Linked DNA regions of Homo sapiens. The protein of the gene in region 2 interacts with the protein of the main gene of each other region in a pairwise test. Each region holds a gene or a part of one and is shown on either strand. Other genes may lie near its edges.

The links. The genes of interacting proteins can lie anywhere in the genome.
Region 1: the proteins of MPP1 (region 2) and ZNF639 interact in binary tests that used the Homo sapiens proteins (3 or more experiments, as listed by UniProt).
Region 3: the proteins of MPP1 (region 2) and SLC35E1 interact in binary tests that used the Homo sapiens proteins (3 or more experiments, as listed by UniProt).

The regions. Positions count from the first base shown.
Region 1 is NC_000003.12:179,318,353-179,326,098, reverse strand, and holds the start of ZNF639 (zinc finger protein 639), read right to left. Parts: upstream 3,069-7,746; 5' UTR 2,808-3,068; intron 2,754-2,807; exon of another isoform or gene 1,838-2,753; intron 1,150-1,837; exon of another isoform or gene 1,106-1,149; intron 1,058-1,105; exon of another isoform or gene 777-1,057; intron 1-776. UniProt on the Homo sapiens protein: Binds DNA and may function as a transcriptional repressor.
Region 2 is NC_000023.11:154,781,363-154,788,698, forward strand, and holds part of MPP1 (55 kDa erythrocyte membrane protein), read right to left. Parts: intron 5,039-7,336; coding exon 4,842-5,038; intron 3,796-4,841; coding exon 3,689-3,795; intron 2,747-3,688; coding exon 2,666-2,746; intron 2,146-2,665; coding exon 2,065-2,145; intron 441-2,064; coding exon 238-440; intron 1-237. UniProt on the Homo sapiens protein: Essential regulator of neutrophil polarity. Regulates neutrophil polarization by regulating AKT1 phosphorylation through a mechanism that is independent of PIK3CG activity.
Region 3 is NC_000019.10:16,562,348-16,569,683, forward strand, and holds part of SLC35E1 (solute carrier family 35 member E1), read right to left. Parts: intron 5,823-7,336; coding exon 5,685-5,822; intron 4,311-5,684; coding exon 4,185-4,310; intron 1-4,184. UniProt on the Homo sapiens protein: Putative transporter.

The DNA.
Region 1 (7,746 bases), on a different chromosome or scaffold from region 2:
TCAGCCTCCCAAAGTGCTGGGATTACAGGCACGAGGCACCGCGCCCGGCCTATAATGCTCTTAACACCAAGGTGATACACATGACAGGTGTTCTAGCTGAGGTGCACATACTATTTTTGCTGCTTCACTAAGTTCTGGGTATATCAGCACTGAAGTGATATAATACAGCAGGGAATGAGATAGTGCTTTTTCAGTTTATTTTATTTTTACTTTTTTTTCGGACAGAGTCTCGCTCTTTCGCCCAGGCTGGAGTGCAGTGGCGCTATCTTGGCTCACTGCAAGCTCCGCCTCCCGGGTTCATGCCATTCTCCTGCCTCAGCCTCCCAAGTAGCTGGGACAACAGGCGCCCGGCTAATTTTTTGTATTTTTAGTACAGACGGGGTTTCACCGTGTTAGCCAGGATGTTCTCGATCTCCTGACCTCGTGATCTGCCCGCCTCGGCCTCCCAAGGTGCTGGGATTACAGGCGTGAGCCACCGCGCCCGGCCTTTTCAGTTTATTAAGCATTTTCCTAACCCTTATTCTATTTCATCTTCAAAATGGTCCTGTGCGGTACATGGAGGAGTTACTATCAAACCCATTTACATTTTTACTGATGTGGAAACAGCCTTAGTGAAAGTTAAGTCAACTAATAAGTGGGAGAACCAGAGATGAAAATGCATGCACATCTTGCTTCCAGTTCTTAGCTACCAGTTGGGAGAAGGGGAACAGAATAGCCTAAAGAAACAGACAACCATGAAATGTACAGAAATGATACCAATATATAAAATACCTCACCTCGCCGGGTGCAGTGGTTCACGCCTGTAATCCCAGCACTTTGGGAGGCCGAGGCGAACAGATCACCTGAGGTCGGGAATTCAAGACTAGCCTGACCAACATGGGGAAACCCCGTCTCGACTGAAAATACAAAATTAGCCGGGCGTGGTGGCACATGCCTGTAATCTGAGCTACTCGGGAGGCTGAGGCATGAGAATCGCTTGAATCCGGGAGGCGGAGGTTGTGGTGACCCGAGATCACATCATTGTCCTCCAGCCTGGGTAACAGGAGTGAAACTCTGTCTAAAAAAGAAAGAAAGAAAGAAAAAAGAATAAAATCAAACGCCTCACCTAACAATGTAAACAATCATTCCTTGAGTAACCATCTCAATTCACTGCATTCAAAAATCAAAAAGAGAAGAGCTATTACGATTCATATAGCCCAAAGCTTCACACTTCATGTTCTAAATACTCTAAAAGTATCAGGGAGAACACTGAAAACACTCAGCCGAACATGTTAAGTAGTCTCTTGTTATTTCAGAATGCATCTCAAGTTCTTTGCAACTTGAAGAATAAAAGTAAGAAAAGGAAACCAAGCGTGGTATTAAAATCAACGTTGCAAGCTGGCCTGGATTCAGGCTGTTAGGTGAGAGGAGGAGGCACACGGATCAGGAAGGGTCTGACTCCTACTTAGGGCCGAACGATAACCAAATGTCTATCGGACTTCCTTTCAGCACAATGGTGATGCCTACTCAAGACCAAAAATGCTAACCATCCTTCATTTTAGCAATCATTTTTATGTGCCTTTTGTGTGCATAACAGCCTTGAAAAAACTTAGCTTTCTACTCAAGGATGTCATAAACATTTGCTCACTAGTCTTCTTAGCAGGAAGATTCTGAATCACAAGCAACCTATCACAGTCCCCCCTCCCTCTGAAATACAAACGACATATGTAACACGTGTCACTGCAGAAAAATCAGAAAAATGTTTAAAAATTTTTTATATCACCTAGAAACCAACATCTTTCCACCTGTCATTTTTTTCAACCAACAAGAAAGTCTATGCACAAAATAGAATACATACAACAGGCAGTCAGCAATCATCAAATAGATAAACGTTTCAAAAGGCCTTTCATGCAATGTATATTCTTCCTAATTGCTGTAAGACGTCTTTACAGTAAATAACTCCATTTTTAACGAGTTTAAAAAGAGTTAAGCTTTCTTTTTCGTTCTCATTAAAATAAGCATATGCTTTAAATTGTAAAAGAATTGAAACAAAAACATGTTGCAGGAGAGCCTGAACTAGAATCCACTACATGTCCAACGTGGAGGCAGTCTTTACTGCAATATCACACGGTCACTAAATACTTGATTCGCTATTTTTCAGTCCGGCATAAATCTTTCTCTTCGAAAAAAACAAAAAAGGCATAAACTGCTTCAAATGATTCGTTTCCCTAGACAGTACTTAAAGACAAAACCAAAAAAGGGGGTTTCTAAGCACCGTCACACGAGTGAGGCGACTCTCAGGCTGGAGGCTTTGGGCGCCAGCATCGACGCCTGCTCTCCGCGGCTACAACTCGTTGCGCGAGCCCGGGGATTCGCCGCCGGAGGTCACGAAGCCGCCGGGCAGGGCCGCAGCGCCAGCGAGGACCCAGGATCGTCCCGAGCCCGGACGCAGCCAGACAAATGCCCGTCGGAGGCGCAGGGCAGAAGTCCCTGGGACTTAGCCGCCTCCACCCCGGCGCCACGCACCAGCTTCGCCCGGGCCCAGAAGCCGGCGCCAAGGAGACTTCCAAGCCCCGACACCAAAGGTTCCGTAAAGACAACGGCAGCAGGGGGCCGAGGGGAGCCCGGCCAAGGCGTCCTGCGCAGGGGGTGGAACTGCCTTCGGGATGGGGGAGGGGAACGCCATCCCGCCATATAACGAAGGCAGAGTTTCCGTATAAAGGGAGCTCCGGTCTCTCCCGCCCTCTCCCGTTAGAAGATGCGCCCGCACGCCCGCGTCCCCTGGAGCAGTCCAGCGCCCGACCCACCCGCTCCTCCCTCACACTCACCAGTCAGTCCCCCGAGGCCCTCCCGGCCGGCCCACGCAGAGGCGGCGGCGGCCGAGAGCGCAGGCGGAGGGGCCGCGCGGTCCTTCCCGCGGACGCACGGCGGCGGGCAGCGCTGCTCCGGCCCTAGCGCTCCCGGACGCTGTGCTGGGCCGACCCCTCTCCCTCCCCGCGCGCCCCACGCCCTGAGCGCCAGGCCCCTGGCCTAGGCTCCGCGGCCGCACTGCCCTGGCCGCCACGCTCCGCGCCTGCGCCGCGCACCTCAGGGGCCCGCCGAGAGGGCGGGGAGGTGACGAGGTGAGGTGGGGGCAGGGAGCGGGCTGCGCGAACGCACCGCACACGCGGCCTGGGAGGGACCACCGGCCCGCAGCCCCGGGGGAGGCCCAGCGGCCCGCGCCCCCTGCCGGAGGCCTTGCGCCGCCGCAGTCTCCTTCTGGGCGGGGAAGAGCCCCTCCCGAGCCCCGAGGGCGATCCCACCCTCTAGGATTACTCCACGCCAGGCGGCCAGCGAATTTATCCCGCCCGCCTCCACCGCCCCTTCAAGCCCTGGGGAACTGGGAGAAACGTGGCGCGCAGCGGCACCTTTCCCACGCTGCTCCTCAAGGGAAAGGACGCGAGTGGTCTTGCCCAGGTTAGGCAAGGCAGATGGCATCTCAGACCCCGAAGTGTGCCAGCCGCCTGTTGGGGACAGAGAGGCCGAGGACCTCGTCACGGTTTTACTGAGGCCACACCAGAGAACCACCTAGGGCTAGGATGCTGCCCTCAGGGCAAGAGGGTGAAACCTGAAGACTGCGAGTCGTTGTTGAGTTTCACCCGATTCCTTGGCTCGAGAAATAGTGGAATGAATGAGGAGTTAAGGGGGACTGGACTCGACGATTTAAGTCCTTTCTCGACTTTGACTTTCTTTGAGCAGCTGTAGAAATGATTAAATTACACGAGCATAAATAAATTTGTGAACATGGTTCCATAAATGATCTCTGTGCAAGTGTGGTGATATGTTTAATTCAGTCCTTTTGACAATGAGTTGAGGTTTTTAGTCACATTTTACAAAATGGAAAAGTAAATGTGTGAGAAGCTAAAGACTGGGTCTTAATTCATTTTGGTAGCCTAAACCCCTGAGGTTCAAACGGTTAAGAGGATGACTGAGAGCCATGTGGATTATCAGGTACCCAAGGTCACTCGGATAGTTAGGGCTGCAATGATGTCTCTTTGTTCACGTCCACTGCTTTTTCTGACAACCACATGCCAATCAACCAATCAATCGCTGGAAAGTAATAATCACAGACTTTACTCTGATCCCTTCACCATCCCCCAGGAGATAAAGCTATATTTGAAAGAGACACTACTTGTTTGTGAGGCTCAGTTTTTATGACCTCCTAAGTTTTATGTGCGTACTCAGCTCAAATAAATGCTCACGAATGCTAGTATGGCCCGAATTAAAGTTCGAAGAAATGTAGAGACATTTTTAAATCCTAGAATAGTTAGTATCTAGCACAGAACCGGGAATCGGTGGAAACCACAAGGGGGTGTCATGCCACCATCTTACCATTTTGCCTTACCACATAGCCTTGTGTCCAACAAAATCTTTATATTTCAAAATGAAGTTTTACTCCAAAACATTTTGTAGTGAAAGTAAACGCACACTCTCCCCAGCATCCCACGTATTGTTTGCACTTAGAGGAGCTTGACTTTGTTTAGATGTTGTTTAACATAGTCACAAATTGCAAGCAATTTCAAGTTCTTGATTAGCTGGAGTGTTTTTCAGTTTCATTTTTGGGTCCCTCTTTTCCTCATCTCCCGCTCCAAGGGAGGGTGATAGCTGGGATAAAACCCTAAAATCTCAAGAGTGCTAAATTGTAGAGTTTGTTAAATACTATTATAAATTTGATTCAGGGCTATTAAAACATCGTTCTTCCAACTTTTTCACACACTTGTAGAATAGCTTAATTTCTCCTTCCTTTCCTTCCTTCCTTTTCTTTTTTTTCTTTTTTCTTTCTCACGGTCTCACTCTGTCGCCCAGGCTCCAGTACAGAGATGGGATATCGGCTCACTGCAATCTCCACCTCCTAAATTCAAGCAATTCTCGTGCCCCACCCTTCAGATTAGCTGAGATTACAGGCGCGAGCTGCCACACCTGGCTAATTTTTGTATATTTAGTGGTGCTGAGATTTCACCATATTGGCCAGGCTGGTCTTGAGCTTCTGGCATCAAGTGATCCGCCCGCCTTGGCCTCCTAAAGTGCTGGGATTACAGGCGCGAGTCACCGCGCCCGGCCACTTAATTTCTTCCTGATTAGAAAATAGTTACGTTTTTAGTACAGAATGGAGACAACAGAAAAGTACAAAGAGCAAAAGTAAATTTACCATAATCTCACAACCCTGAGCTCATCAATGGTAACATTTTGCTTTCTATCTTTCCGTTATTTTTATACCTATACTGACATAAAAATTTGTTTTCAAAATTAGAATATTGGCTGTGTTTTTTTCTAACAGGTTCTTTTTTCCAATTAGTATAGCACGAGCATTCTTTATGTTTTTTGTTTGTTTGTTTGTGTGTTTTTGAGACAGAGTCTTGCTCTTTCGCCCAGGCTGGAGTGCAATGACGTGATCTTGGCTCACTGCAACCTCCGCCTCCCAGATTCAAGCGATTCTCCTGCCTCATCCTCCGAGTAGCTGGGATTACAGGCGCGTGGCACCACACGGGGCTAATTTTTGTATTTTTAGTAGAGACGGGTTTCACCATGTTGGCCAGGCTGGTCTCAAACTCCTGACCTCAGGTGATCCGCCCACCTCGGCCTCCGAAAGTACTGGGATTACAGGCGTAATTGCAGTTTGTTGTTTTTTAATTTTGTTAGTGGTGCAAACATTTTAAATTGTAGTGAAAGCAAGTCTATTAATCTTTTCCTTTGCAAGTTCTATTTTTGGCCTTTTGCTGAGATAATCTTTTCTTCTATGCAGGATCTGGTTGCATTTTTTGCTTTAACTTTTTCGTTTGTCTACAATTTATTTTGGGATATGGGATGAAGAGAACTGGGTAAATCTGGACTAGGGCCTGAGTAGCTGCAGTTCTAACAAATTTCCTTTCGAAGTCCATGCTGCTGGCCTGTGATCACGTCTGGAGAACCACTATCCTAAGTCTTTCCTCACCCAACCCCACACTAACCATATAGTATTTCTCACTATTCCACAGATACGCTCTGCCTTTTTCTCACTTGTGTGATCTAGCACGTTTCTTCCACCTGCAATTTGTTTCCTTTGTTTCTGTAAGATGAAGCTCACAGTTGATCTCTTCTATGAAACCTTGATTTTCCCTTGCCGAAATCTCTGACCAATCTTTAGAGATTCCACAGTAGTTAGTACATTTGTCCACTTCTCCCCAGAGATGGAGTTACTGTGAAGTTACTGAAGCTTAAATTTCAAGTCCCTTCAATTGCATGAACCTCTTCCAGGACCACGTGCTTAATTTTGTATTATTTATTTTGAGACAGAATCTCACTCTATCGCCCAGGCTGAAGTGCAGTGGTATGATCTCGGCTCTCTGCAACCTCCTCCTTCTGGGTTCAAGCGATTCTCGTGACTCAGCTTCCCAAGTAGCTGGGACTACAGGTGCGCACCACGATGCCTGGCTAATTTTTGTATTTTTAGTAGAGACGAGATTTCACCATGTTGGCCAGTCTGGTCTCAAACTCCTGACCTCAAGTGATCCACCCACTTCGGCCTCAGCAAAGTGCTGGGATTACAGGCATGAGCCACCACACCCAGCCTGTATTAAAATTTTATATTATTTTTCTCAAATTGATCTTCCCAGTTTGCATAAGCGTCTGCCCTTGCAAAATTTGGCTCCATCTGTTCATCATGTTGTCTCTCCACGGACCCTAAGTTCCAGTTTTATTATCTTCCAATCTGCTCCATTTCCCTGCTTAGCACAGTATCTTGCATACAGCCTCATTCATTTCTTTCAGTAGAATATTCATTGCATATCTACCTTGTGTTCAGCACTGTACTAGATACTGGCAATACAGTGTGAGCAAGATAGACATGGTCATTGGTCTCCTGGTCCTTACAGTTGAGTAGGGAATATGGGCAATTATACAACACTGGAATGTAATTAGTAAACTTACATAGTGCAGGTATGGGAACACATGACACATGGCCTAGCTTGGTATTCTGTTTGTCGAATGAATTGATAAACTCTGTCATGGTTACCTAGTCAGCTAACACTAGTGCACACCTAAGGGACACGCTTCTGACTCAGGCATGAGGTGGCTGCATGCAAAAGTCTCAAGTTAGTCATCTCACATACTCAACAGAGCCATCTGAGCTCCAAAATTCCAAGCCACCCTTACACAGGTACAAGGACTAAATTTATACATTTCTTTTTTGAAAGCACTACAGGCCAGGTATGGTGGCTCACACCTGTAATCTCAGCACTTTGGGAGGCCAAGGCAGGCAGGTCACTTGAGTGCAGGAATTTGAGATGAGCCTGGGCAATGTGGCAAAACCCTGTCTCTACAAAAAAACAAAAAACACAAAAAATTAGCCACGTGCCTGTAGTCCCTACTCAGGAGGCTGAAGTAAGAGGATCTCTTGAACCCAGGAGGTCAAGGCTGCAGTTAGCTGTGATTGTACCACTGTACTCTAGCCTGGGTAACAGAGTGAGACCCTGTCGAAAAAACAACAACAAAAAAGCAGTCCAACAAAGCCCAAATCTGGCCGTTCCAGTCAACACACTCAGACAATTTGCTTTCCTAAAATGGGACAGGGAAAGTGTTTTGGTTGTAAAAGATCTAGCCTATTTCTCCATTTTTTTTTTTTTTTTGAGATGGAGTTTTGTTCTTGTTGCCCAGGCTAGAGTGGAATGGCACGATCTTGGCTCACCTCAACCTCCACCTCCCAGGTTCAAGCAATTCTCCTGTCTCAGCCTCCTGAGTAGCTGGGATTAC
Region 2 (7,336 bases):
GAAAGTGAAAAAAAAAAACCTACATAGCTGTCATAATGGATTCCTTCTAATAAGCAGCTTTGAGCTTTACCCCAATACAACTTTCCATCATTCCCAGTACTACTGTTCTTGTTCCAGGCTGACCCCATTAAAAGGCTGAAGCAATCCTGAGCCCCCAGAAGATTCCCAAGGAGCACTGTCTTCGCCATCCCTTGTGTGGCTGAGCCCATCTGTCCCTGCCCTTCCATGCCTACCCACCTGGGGCTCAATGTCAAGGATGGCAATCTTGTTCTGCTTATGGATCTGGTGCACTGTTTCAAATTTGGTGCCAAACATGTTGCCTTGGTAGCTGCCAAACTCCAAGAACTCATTGGCAGAGATGTTCCTCGTCATCTCCTCCGTTGAGATAAAGTGGTACTCCTTCCCATCTTCCTCACTCTTCCTTGGCGGCCGTGTTGTATCTGTGTACAAGAACCCAAATCCCCGACAAACTCCAGGTCCTCACCCTTTCATGAGGGCTTGGACCATGGTGTCTGTATGGAAACCCTAGCTGCCTTTGGTGCATTGACTTTAATACAGGGGTTCCTCCCGTGGGCTCCTGAAGAGCTGATGCTAGAAAGTGATGCACACCAGGAAATCCCTCCATCTGCCCAGGACACATTTAATTTTTAAGGGGCAAAGCCTAACATAGAAAATTCCTATTATCATTTTCCCTAAATGAAGTTACATCTCTCAAACTACCAAATCTAGGAATATTGAAACTTAGAAATGAAGATAGCGGAAAATATTTTAAAAACAGATCTACAGACTATGGTCAGGATTTCTTGGAAATATATTTAAGGTTTCCTTTTCATGACTTGGAAAGAAGAGTACTTTGGTTTAGTTTCAGCTCATGTTGTTAAAAGTTGGACTATTTTCTATTACTCATATAAATTGTCTAATCAGTAAAATATGCTCCAGATATTGTAGCTTGAAACACAATCCTCCCAACCTCCCCTCTTTCCATCTTCCATTGACTGTCTCCTTTGCCTTCCGGATCACACTTGTCTCTCAACTGGCCCCTTCCCCTCAATCTACAACCACATGTGATTCTCTTGAAGGAGGAGCCTGTACTGGTTATTTCTGCTTCCCCACTCACTCCTGGGGCCATCTCTTTCTGCTCCTAATGTGACACTGGAATAACTCTTATGTCCCTCCAGCAACGAGACAACTCTCAATGATCCATGTGTAAAAAAGCAAAATGAAGAAAGAATTAAAAAATAGTAATATGAGGTTTAGAATCTGGTTTTCTATTTTGCTTAGCAGTACAGTAATTCCTCACTTAATATTATTATCAGTAGGTTCTTAGAAAATGTGACTTTAAGTGAAATCACATGCAGCTGGTCGTTGACTAACATGGTTTAGTTCAACTTCATTTCATTGTATTGTTGATGAGTAAAAAAACTGGTTCTTGTTATATGTCATTTCACTTAAAGTCACAGTCTTCGAAGAGCCTATTGACAATATTAAGTGAGGAATCACCGTATTTCTTTCTGGGAACATACACAACTATACCATGCAGCATCACTTCTGGGAATGGAAGAGTTATCAAATTCTCCACCTGATCACTGGCGCTACTCTTCTCCATATCTAGGACTGCTGTTGAGATCGTTTGGGCCTTTCCTAGGCACTGCTTTGATTTAGAAGACATTCCATGAAAATGAGAGGCAGCCTGAACATCAAGAGTGGGATAGTTCTCAAAGAGAATTAGGCAAATTGCAGAGGAACATGAGAAAATGTTTAAAAAGTAAAATGACAAAGTTATATGTATAAACTTTAATACTTAGTAATTTTTAAGGCAGTATCAAAATGTTTACTATAGCTTCTGTTATGTAGACAAACAGCACGAATAACAATAAGAAAACAGTTATTCTGTTAGGTGGAGGAATTGTGGGCACAAATTTTTATCTTTCCATATTTTGTTTAGTTTTAATAATCATTTAAAATAAAATAATTTAAAAAATAATAAAATAACACTATGGTATTTCAGATGGCGAGTGGTACCAGCCTGTCACCTCCCCTCCAAGGTGCCTAAGAGCTACTTACATGGGACAGGGTACACAAACTTCTCCGGATTCTGGCTGAGCAGGGCATTCTTAATGTGGCTGCGACCCACCCCACTGGCTCCTGTGTAGAGAGAGAAGAACATCTTTTGGAAAGGGGGGAGAGGAGCGAGGATAAGATACGGATTTTCCTCTCTCGGCACTCAAAACTGCCAACAGGTGAACATGAGTTGGGGTTGCATCTGGGCTGGGGTCAACTCTAAAGACAGGAAGGTGAGCAGTCCGCCAGAGGCAAAGCCTACATACCTGGGTTTGAAGCAAGGACTTACTCTGTTTCAGGTCAGAGTCACTGCTTGGGGGAAGGGAGATTTACAAAGCGTATCACTGCCAGCAGACAGCATGAAACCTAACCAAAAATAATTCGTTGCTAAATAGTAGAGAAACTTGTAAGGTTTAGTTTCATTTGTGAGGTGGACCCAGGTGGGGTGCACGTGAGGATTCAGAAAATTCCTTACACCTGCTCTATATGGAGAACCCAAGAGACCTCAGTTCTTTTCTTCCTCACTGCCTTTTTTGGGGGTGGGCACGTGATGCAGGCAGGAAAACAAAGACAGAAATGTGCAAATGGGGCAATGAGAAGATACCGATCAGCACCAGGGTCTTCCTCTTGAATGCAGGGAGCCGAACGACTTCCTCGTAGGAAACAACATCCAACTGATCAAAAACTAGAGACAAAGAAAACCAAGCAGTGTTCATTTCCAGAGCTAGGGAGAACAGTGGTCCACACTCTGAAATGGGAAACAGCCTCGCGACATCTCAACAAGCAGGGAGGAAGTGACTAGAGATGAGACGAGGGAGGTTGGTGTGGAGGAAGGACTTTGGACTGTATTTTTAGTGTGGTGAGGGAATTTTGAGCAAGGGAGTTTATCTAACTTTTGCACCCTCTCTTCCTCCTTGCCCTATCTCTCTGAGCCAACTTTTCTTGTCTCCTGTCCTCATCTCTTCTCCATAGTTTCAGTATCAGATGTTCCCTTGGCACTTAGAGCTGAAGAATGCCAATGCTATCTCGGTTCTGCCTGAATGTCCCTTATCTTAGAAGATGGTGGTGCTATTGACCCAGCTGCTCAAGATAGAGACCTGGTGTCATCCTGACTCTCCACCCCCTTACCTGCCTACAACCCAAGACTGCCACGATCATTCCCTGGCTGGTGGTGTGCACGTGACGTCTCAGAAAAGAGAAATGCAGATGGAAAGCTGACCGTGCGAATTCTCTGCTCAAAACCCTTCACCAGCTCCACAGTCTATAGTGCAAAATTTAAAACGCTAGGGAGGGTGCACGAAGCTCCCTATGACCTGGCCCTGGCCTCTCCCTCTGGCCTGTGTTCTTGCCTCACTTCCCCTCTCCCACCACATCTACTTCTGTGTGAGGGGTGGGGTGATGAGCAGGTGTGGGCTCACCACTAGTCCTCCTTTACATCCACTGGCCTGACTGCAGCAAGCTTGTGAAGATGGATTCAATAAAAAGAAACCAGAAGAAATGACATGCTTTCTGTAGAATGCGCCTTCTGCTGCGCACTGCACCACCTCCCCTTTTCTGCTGGTTACAGAGACTGGGAAACACGTGAATGCTGCCAGGAACCTGGGGCAAGAAGGCTCAGAAAGCTTACTCGAGCTGTGCTTGGCCAGATATTTGTCTTTGTACTTCTTCTTCTTCCCAAAGGGACTGCAGCTCGGGGCTTCGCTAGGAGCTGACTGAGCCATACTTGCCACTCGCCTGGTAGGAAAAGACAATCAAGGGGTCAGCTTTCCTCCCCCTCCCCTCATACCCCCCCCAGCCACTCAGTCTCTAATGGCACCCCCTTCACTCTCTGAGTGTCCATTACAGTGGGAGATAATGTGTGCAAAGCACCCCATACACTGTTTGGTGCATCTTGCACTGTGCCCTGCCCTCAGTCAGGGACCTGGCTCCTTGAGTCTGTGTCATCTAGTACCTGTCAGCACATTCTGGACACAACCCACAAACAACTCTCTTTCTTTGGTCTAGACCATAAAGGTCTCAAACCTTTATGACCCTACCTCACTCTAAGAAATACACTGTACATTGCAAGCCATTATTGCACATACATCTATAAACAAAACACATACACACACCCCACATATATATCTAAAACAACTGCTTCACAAAACAATAACTTGTATTACTACATGTAATATATTCTAATATTTCTATTCAGTGTCAACCCCACAATGGTTGTAATCTTTACACTGGGGTAAGTTTGCACAGGCAGAGGGAGGCTCAGTGTTGGATGTCTTATCAGTTGGAACTGTTTTGTGAATTTTTCTGCCATTCCTATGATGTAACCAGGACTAAGTGAGCAATCTGACTCGGGGACAGGAATTATTTCTTCCATGTACCAGGAATGTGCCTAAAGGACACATACTTAAATGCGACTGTTTTCTGCAGGACTCCAAGGAAATCCCAGAAACAGCATGGCTGGTAGAAGCGCACTAGCTTGGGAAACAGGAGACCAGGGAGGGCTCAGTCCCAGCACTGTCACGTGCTTGGTAACTATGGGGAAAACGTTTAAGGAAGCAAGAGGCCCACATAAGAATGAAGAGCTATTTGGGCTCCCTTGCCTGTGGTTGCCTCTCAGTCCAGCTTATCAACGCATGGTTAACCCTCCCCCACCCATTATGCCAGGAAATCTAGGAGGTCTCCTTGGTTGAGAAACAGAAACTACAAACAAAATGACAGATTTTCTGAAGCTAAGTTATTTGTGGCAGGCACATGGCCCTTCCACCTGCACAAAAATGGCTCACCATTCCTGCAGCTCAGGGGAAGGGATCAATCCTGCTGACTCCTTGGAGGAGCCTTCCACCCGTCCCTGCCACCAATTGCTGTCATCCTTGTTGATAATCTGGATAATGTCCCCAGTAGCAAACTTCAGTCCCGCCTCCTTGCAAGGGATCAGATTGTCCTTTTTGGGATCATAGTCAAACTGCGCTCTCATGAACATCTAAAAAGAAGGTAAAAGGAACTGCAGGCGGCAGCTTCAAAAGAAACACCAGCATCAGAGCATGTCCTGCTGTAGACAAATGGGGTCAGGATGGAATGAACAACAGGGAGGTAAGAATGGTGGGGGAGCACCCAAGAAAGAGAAATTGAAACGCTGAAGTGATTGTGTTTGCGGAGGGGTCAGAATGAATCCCTTTAACAAGAAGGCATGAGAAGCCAGGCGCAGTGGCTCACGCCTGTAATCCCAGCACTTTGGGAGGCCGAGGCGGGTGGAACACATGAGGCTAGGAGTTGGAGACCAGCCTGGCTAACATGGTGAAACTCCGTCTCTACTAAAAATACAAAAATTAGCTGGGTGTGGTGGCGTGCACCTGTAGTCCCAGCTACTCGGGAGGCTGAGGCGGGAGAATCGCTTGAACCCGGGAGGTGGAGCTTGCAGTGAGCCGAGATTGTGCCACTGCACTCCAGCCTGGGCGACAGAGTGAGACTCCGTCTCAAAAAAAAAAAAAAAAAAAAAAAAAAAGAAGGCATGAGATATCTTTCCACGTCAACGTGTCCACAGTTACTGCTGGATCTGGGTCGTCTGTCTCAGTACAGGGCAGCTACTCTTTGAACAACTGTTTTCACAATTGAAAATATGGACACTCATATCTATCAAAGAACTTGAATTTATTATTGAAAATTCTCCTCTCCTGCTCCCAAACACACACACACACACACACACACACACACACACACACACACACACCTACCTCATTACTTCATTGACAAATTTTCCAAGCATCATTTGAAGAAAGAAGGCTAATCTCATACGAAAACAGATTATAGAAAATGATGGCACTTCCCAACTCATTATAAGCATGATACCCAAATCTGACAAGAATCTTATAATTTCTCTCTGCAACAGAGATGTAAAAACCCCAAACAAAATATCAGCAAGTCAAATTTAGTTATGTATAAAAAGTATAATAAATCACAACCAAACAGGATCTAGTTCAGCAATATAAGAAGGTTTACTACCTGAAGGGCAATAAATTCACCACGTTAACATAAAAATGGAAAAAGATCATATGATCCCCTCAATAGATGCAGAAAAAGCCTGTGATAACATTCAAAACCCATTCAAGATTAAAATTCTTAGCAAACTTGGAATAGAAGGGAGGTTCTTTACTGTGAGAAAGAATACCTACAGAAACCCTACATCCAACGTCATACTTCTCAGTGAAAGATTAAAAGCTTTCCCTGCCTTTTTCAAAGGACATGGGTCTTGCTATGTTACCCAGGTTGGTCTCGAACTCCTGGGCTCAAGCAATCCACCCGCCTCGGCCTCCCAAAGTGCTAGGATTACAGGCGCATGCCACCACACCTGGCCAGCTTTCCCTTTAAGATGGAAAAATAAACAAAGATGTCTGCTATCATCACTTCCACTGGGATACTGTGAAGATGCCTCTTTTATCCAAACTGATATGTAGGTTTGACACAGGGATAAACAAACAGTCCAAAAGAAAAGAATAAAAAGTTCCAAAATAGACCTGTAAATATTACCATGACAAAAGTGACAGTGTACAGTAAATGATACTGGTTCAATTGGTATCCATATGGAAAAACTGGAATCTTGACCTCTTACCTTACAATGTATATAACAATCAATCCCAGATGGGTTGTGGATCCAAATGTGAAAAATCAAACAAGTAAGCATTTAGAAGAAAACACAGGAGAATATCTTGTTGACCTTGTGGTAAGTAAAAACTTTTAAAACAAGACATAAAAAGTGCTAATCAGAAAAAAGTGGTAGATTGGATTTCATTAAAATTAAGAGTTTCTAGTCATTAACAGGAACCATGAAGAAAATAAGCCACAGAAGAAGAGAACATACTTGGGATGCATATGACAAAGGACTCTTATCCAGAATATATGAGGAACTGCTACAAATCAGTAAGAAAAGCCTTGAATTGGTATCTTACAAAAGAGGATATCCAAGTGGAAAAAAACATATAAAAAGGAGTTTACCCTCATTAGTCATTAGAGAATTTTTAGAATCACAATGTGATACCACCATCAGGATGGCCAAAGGGTGAAAAAAAACCCAACAAATCAGACAATGCTAAGTATTGGTGAGAATACAGAACAACCAGAACTGTCATACTGTGCAGTTGGGGATGTAACATGGTTCACCAACTTTGGAATACTATTTGGCAATATCACCTAAAGATGAAGACACATATATCCTACAACCTGGCAATTCTACTCTCAAAAGAAAGGCATAGATGTATCCACAAAACACATGCACAAAAATCAT
Region 3 (7,336 bases), on a different chromosome or scaffold from region 2:
CTGGGACGATGAGATGAAATGAACAAGGTGCAGAATAGTTCAGCTCCCCTTCAGTATCCACGGAGGACTGGTTCTAGGGACCCCTGCGGATGCCAAAATCTACAGATATTCAAGTCCCTTTTATAAAATGGTTTAGTATTTGCATGTAATCCATGCACATCCTCCCATATACTTGAAATCATCGCTAGATTACTTGTAATCCCTAATACAATAAAACTGCTATACAAATAATTGTTATACTGTATTATTTTAAAATGTCTTATTCTTTATTATAGTATTTTGTTTTTCTACCATATATTTTCAATTCGCAGTTGGCTGAATCCACTAGTGTGGAACCCACAGATATGGAAGGATGACTGTATGTTTATATTTATTTTTGAGATAGGGTCTTGCTCTGTCATGCTGGCTGGGGTGCAGTGGCTCAAACATGGCTCACTGCAGCTTTGACCTTCCCGGGCTCAAGTGATCTTCCCACCTCAGGCTCCCAAGTAGCTCGGACTACAGGCATGTGCCACCATGCCGGGTTAATTTTTGGTTTTGTTTTACGTAGAGACGGGGTTTCACCATGTTGACCAGGCTGGTCTCAAACTCCTGAGGCTAAAGCAGTCTGCCTGCCTCTGCCTTCCAAAATACTGGGATTACATGTGTGAGGCACTGTGCCTGACCTGTAAATTTAAAAAGCTACTTTTTGGGCTGGGCGTGGTCGCTTACGCCTATAATTCCAGCACTTTGGGAGGCCGAAGTGGGTGGATCACCTAATGTCAGGAGTTTGAGACTAGCCTGGCCAAAATGGAGAAACCCCACCTCTAGTAAAAACACACAAAAAATTAGCTGGGCGCGGTGGTGGGTGTCTGTAGTCCCAGCTACTCGGGAGGCTGAGGCAGGAGAACTGCTTGAATCCGGGAGGCGGAGGCTGCAGTGAGCCGAGAACATGCCATTGCATTCTAGCCTAGGAGACAGAAAAACTCCGTCTCAAAAAATAAAATAAAATAAAATAAAATAATAAAATAAAAAGCTACTCTGTGTGTAATAAGGACAGAGGGTGATTATACATGCAAATTTGCTTATATTTGCAAAAATATGGAACAGGTGAACTAGGAGCCTAAGAAATGTTATCCATGGTCAGGGAGGGGACAGGGAGAGTACAGGAATCATGACCAGACTTCTTCTTTTTTTTTATTTTTATGAGACAGTCTCACTTTGTCACCCAGGTTGGAGTGCAGTGTCGTGATCTCAGCTCACTGCAACCTCCACCTACCTAGTAGCTAGGATTATAGGCGTACGCCACCACACCAGATAATTTTTATATTTTTTCTAGAGATGGGGTTTCCCCACGTTGGCCAGGCTGGTTTCGAACTCCTGGCCTCAAGGGATCCACCTACCTCGGTCTCCTAAAGTGCTGGGATTCCAGGTGTGAGCCACCACACCCAGCCTGCAAAGAAATACTAACCTTTTCTCAGCACTCCAGTTGCAATTGTGCTGTGAGAATGCTCATTCTGAAGCAATTATATGAGTGAGTGTACAGTAGAATAACATCAGTGAATAACGGGTAGAATAAGCAACTAAGAAACGAGGAGCGGAACCAAGCATACCAGCGACGAGATCTAAATATGAAATTCAAAACAGCAAAGATCTGGACTGTTCAACTGAAAGTGACGCTAATTGCTAGGAACTCTTTGCTGCTGCCCCAAGTGTGTACTTCCTAATTTTTCACAGTAAAGGCCTAACAACAATGACCACCCAGCAGCAAAAAGCACCCATGGCACCTGGATTGTGTCTCTAAATACCGCTCCCCACTAACGGCACCTGGAGTCCTGAAGGAGGGGCTGACTGCAGCTCTGGGATGGGAAGTACACAAGGTGAAGGCGGGCATCCCGCTGGGAGAAACGCTGACCCACAGTGCTAGAAGGGCAAGGAGCCAATCAGAAGGGCTCCAATGGCTAAGACAGGACAATTTTTTTTTCTTCTTTTTTTTTAAGATGGAGTCTCGCTCTGTCGCCCAGGCTGGAGTGCAGTGGTACGATCTCAGCTCACCGCAACCTCCGCCTTCCAGGTTCAAGCAATTCTCCTGCCTCAGCCTCCTGAGTAGCTGGGATTACAGGCGTGCACCACCATGCCTGGCAAATTTTTGTATTTTCTGTAGAGATGGGGTTTCACCACGTTGGCCAGGCTGGTCTTGAACTCCTGACCTCAAGTGATCTGCCCACCTCGGCCTCCCAAAGTGCTGGGATTACAGGCTGGAGCCACTGCGCCTGGCCAAGACAGGACAATTTGACTAGGAAAACGAATAATTCATGCAACTGACAAACACATAAAAGTTCACAATGATGCTGGAGAAAAAAAGAGAACCCCTTCCCTACCCCCAAACAAACCCTCAACTCTGGTCAACATTTGGAGTAAGCTCCAACTCTCTATCCTGAAAATTAGTCATCAAAAGGAACAGTTAAGCATTAAACTGCCTTTCTCGTACCATACTTCAAGGTAACAAACTAGTCCTGGAAGATGGAAAGTTCTTCACAGAAGAATTACAGCTCATCAATGTGAAACGAAAGTTAGAAAAGTGAGCCATGGTTTACTGATTGGGAAAATAGAGGTAATATCCACTACTTCAGCAGGTGGAGCCAAGGATTAAAGATAAGAAATGTCACAAATCCAGCTAGACCACATTAAGACCTCAATAAATATTTACTTTTCCTTTCTAACTCGAGTCTGGAAGAATCGCACTGGCCTCCTCCTCACCGCAGGCACTTGCATTCATTTATAACACATTCTCTGAAGGCAGACCCTGCAGGTGGCAAAAAGATTCGACGTGGAGTAAATGGAAACAGAGACCAGGGAGGAACTGAGCTGCACAGTTTTCTTTCTTTCTTTTTTTTTTTTGAGACGGAGCTTCACACTTGTTGCCCAGGCTGGAGTGCAGTGGTGCGATCTCGGCTCACTGCAAACTCTGCCTCCTGGGTTCAAGCGATTCTCCCACCTCAGCCTCCCAAGTGGCTGGGATTACAGGCGTGCACCACCACGCCTGGCTAATTTTGTATTTTTAGTAGAGACAGGATTTCACCATATTGGTCAGGCTGGTCTCGAACTCCTGACCTCAAATGATTCACACACCTTGGCCTCCCAAAGTGCTGGGATTATAGGCGTAAGCCACCACACCCAGGCAGCGCATGTTTTTTTCTTTTTTTTTTGACACGGAGTCTCCCTCTGTCACCCAGGCTGGAGTGCAGTGGCACCATCTCGGCTCACTGCAACCGCCACATCCTGGGTTCAAGCAATTCTTCTGCCTCAGCCTCCCAAGTAGCTGGGACTACAGGTGCGAGCCACCATGCCTGGCTAATTTTTGTATTTTTGGGAGAAACAGGGTGTCACCATATTGGCCAGGCTGGTCTCAAACTCCTGACCTCGTGATCCGCCCGCCTTGGCCTCCCAGAGTGCTGGGATTACAGGCGTGAGCCACTGCGCCCGGCTTTTTTTTTTTTTTTTTTTTTTTTTGGCCAGTGCATAGTTTTCAAAGTTCCAGGGCTGGCAAGGCACAGTGGCTCACATCTGTAATCCCAGCACTTTGGGAGGCCAAGGCAGATCTCTTAACGCCAGGAGTTCAGGACCAGCCTGGGCAACATAGTGAGACCCTGTCTCTCCAAAAACAGTAAAAAAACAAAAATCAAACAAAAAAAAATTAGCCAGGCATGGTGGTATTCGCCTGCAGTCCCAGTTACTCGGGAGGCTGTGGGAGGATCGCTTGAGCCCCGGATTGAGGTCAAGGCTGCAGTGAGCCATGATTGTGCCACTGCACTCCAGCCCTGGCAACAGAGCGAGGTTCTGTCTCTAAAAAATAAACATTTAAAATAAAAAATGAGTAAAAATAAAAAGTCAATGTGCTATCTGGACTATACTGTCAGGAGGTGAAAGAGTCACCTTCTCTTCCTTGACGCTACTGGCGCACACACAGCAGCTATCAGCACCTGGGATCAAGCACACCAGAGAAGGAAATACACAGGAAACCCACTTCCTCGATGGCGTGCATCGTCACCGTGAGGCATTACAGAGGACTGACTGCTGAAAGCGCTGGCTGTCAGGTGCCCAAAAGATACCACAATGTTAACATGCAGCTACAGCTCCTCAACAAAGCACCTATTCTGGAACTAGCCAAGAAAATGGCGTGTTCTTGGTGCTGTACAACTCACCAAGTCGCTGCTGACCAGGAAAGCCGAGAGGTCCACCAGAACCCAGGTGGGGATCATAAAGAAGACGGCGTGGCAGCCCAGGATGTTGAGCAGCCGGAGATGGTGGATCCGTGAATCTCGCAAGACCTGGAAAGGGAAAGCCTCTTTAGAGGGTGATTAAAACTATATGTGGCAAAAAGGGCTCCAGTGACTCAGGCCCCAAACACAGTGACTGGACATTAACCCTGACATCTGAGCTTGGACACCAAACCTGCAAGTGCATTTGTGAGGACATACACAGCACAGGCCTGAAACAAGCACCATGCTCCACGCATAAACGACTGAGAAAAGAAAACAAAAATAAAACAGTAACACTCAGTGCTGGTGAGGATGAAGTGAAGTAGGCACTCTGAAATTCCACTGGTTTGAGGCTGAATTGGTATAACCTTTCTAAAATACGACCAGACAAACCATATTAAGAGTGATTAACGTTTCATACCCTCTAACCTGAGAACTGTAAGCCTATCATAATGAAATAACTGAGACAGGAAAACATCACACACGTGATTGTTTCTACATTACAATGAAAAGTTGGAAATAAGTGGTATTTCCAATAGAGAGACTGCATTAACTGTGGTACCTGAAAAGTGTGTGATTATCACAGGAGTTAAGAGCAATTTTTTTTTTTGAGACGGGGTCTCACTCTATTCCTATTGCCTAGGCTGGTCTCGAACTCCTAGCCTCAAGTGATCCTCCTGCCTTGGCCTCCCAAAGTGCTGGGATTATAGATGTGAGCCACTGCACTAGGCTTCAACAAGTTTTAAAATCTTGTTTTAAATTGAAGTTTTTAGCTAGGCCTGGTGGCTAATGCCTGTAATCCCAGTGCTTTATGAGGCTGAGGTGTGAGGATCACTTGAGCTTCGAAGACTGAGGCTGCAGTAAGCTATGATTGTGCCACTGCACTCCAGCCTGGGCGACAGTGAGCCTTGGTCTCAATAAAAGAGCTTTTCTTTATTTTTTTCTTATTGAGCACATTAACTTTATAATAGAAAAACTTTTTTTTGTTTTTGAGATGGAGACTCACTCTTGCCCAGGTTGGAGTGCAGTGATGCAAAATCTCAGCTCACTGCAAGCCCCGCTTCCTGGGTTCAAGCAATTCTTGTGCCTCAGTGTCTGGAGTAGCTGGGATTACAGATGCGTGCCTGGCTAATTTTTATGTTTTTAGTAGAGATGGGGTTTTGCCATATTGGTCAGGCTGGTGTTGAACTCCTGGCCTCAAGTGAACCGCCCGCCTTGGCCTCCCAAAGTGCTGGGATTATAGGCATGAGCCACTGCGCCCGGCCAGAAAAACAAACTATTTAAAAAGCAAAATGACAAACAGAAAATCAGCAGAATGGCAATCAAGATTTTTCTGCTCTAATAGCAAAGAAATTTCTACTCCGCCTGTTTTCCCAATGCCACCAGTTTGCTGCCCGCACACCCCTGAAACCCCATGCATGTCCGCTGATGGTGACCAAATACCTTTTTGGAGAAAATGTTCTGAAGCGAGAAGCACAGCGTGGCGGCGAGGGCGCTGACGAGTCCCCACATGTCAAAAGACAACTCGGTGACGGTGGCCAGCAGGACACCGCTGATGATGGGGATGAGTGACAAGTATACCTGCAGGAAGAGGTCATCAAGAAGGGCTCACAGGCCAGACTAGAGCTGGGCCACATGCCACAGATGCCCAGGGAAGAGCCCCTCTCCTCCCTCAGCAAAGGGATACCACCTAACACTTTGAAAGTGGTGTTTGCTGTGCCAGTGACGCTCTGGTGGGTGGCTGGGGGCAGGTGGTTATCAGAGCGCCAGGGGCAGGGCTTATTTGTGGGTAGCCCCATCCCCATACCGTCACCCCCATTAAGAGCCTCTGCTCAGGGCCACAGCCCGGGGCTGGTCCTAACTCCACAGATCTGTTCAGCTGCCACTGACGCACCAGGGTTTGAAGCCCTGATCCTCTATAAGGCTCCCCCATTCCCTCTTTTTAAAAAATAGTTTTTTTGAGACAAAGTCTCGCTCTGTCGCCCAGGCTGGAGTGTAGTGGCACAATCGTGGCTCACTGCAACCTCTGCTTCCCGGGTTCAAGCGATTCTCCTGCCTCAGACTCCCCAGTAGCTGGGATTACAGGGATGTGCCACCACGCCCGGCCAATTTTTTTGTACTTTTAGTAGAGACAGGATTTCGCCATGTTAGCCAGGCTAGTCTTGAACGCCTGATCCACGTCATCCATCCACCTTGGCCTCCCAAAGTACTGGGATTACAGGTGTGAGCCACTGTGCCCAGCCCCCATTCCCTCTTACTTCAGGCTCTTCCAGTATGGTTACTCCTGGCTGGCACACTCCACTGATGCCTTCTCCTCCCAGTGACCTCCTGCCTCCACAAGGAGTGCTTTCTCCAACCCACCTCCACCTTGGGAGGCTCCTGTGCTGTGCTCCCAGGGCCACTGCCTGGACTTCCCCAGCAGAGAGCTCTCCACTCACTCTTTTTTTTTTTTTTTGAGACGGAGTCTCGCTCTGTCACCAGGATGGAATGCAGTGGCATGATCTCGGCTCACTGCAACCTCTGCCTCCCAGGTTCAACCGATTCTTCTGCCTCAGCTTTCTGAGTAGCTGGGACTACAGGTGCCTACCACCACGCCCAACTAATTTTTGTATTTTTAGTAAAGATGGGGTTTTGCCATGTTGGCCAGGATGGTCTCGATCTCTTGACCTCGTGATCTGCCCACCTTGGCCTCCCAAAGTGCTGGGATTACAAGCGTGGGCCACCGTGCCCAGCCTCTCCACCCACTCTGTCTGTTACATCATCCGGTCCCGTTAGTGTACCTTAGAGCAGGTCCTTGTTCACTGCTTTATCCTGGTGCCTAGCACTCAGTAGGCACTCAATAGCTGCTAGCTGAATGAACGAGTAGCAAACATAGTGACAGAGAGCCTTCTAGAAGGTCTGGCATGCAGGGCTAAACAACTCCCAACTTCCAGGATCCACCAGGATCCATTCCCGCGTGTCCAGCTCTTCTGACTCTCGGCTCAATCCTGTCCTACAAAGAACACTCTTCACTTTGGGAGGCTGAGGAGGGCAGATCACTTGAAGTCAGGAGTTTGAGACCAGCCTGGCCAACATGGTAAAACCCTGTCTGTATT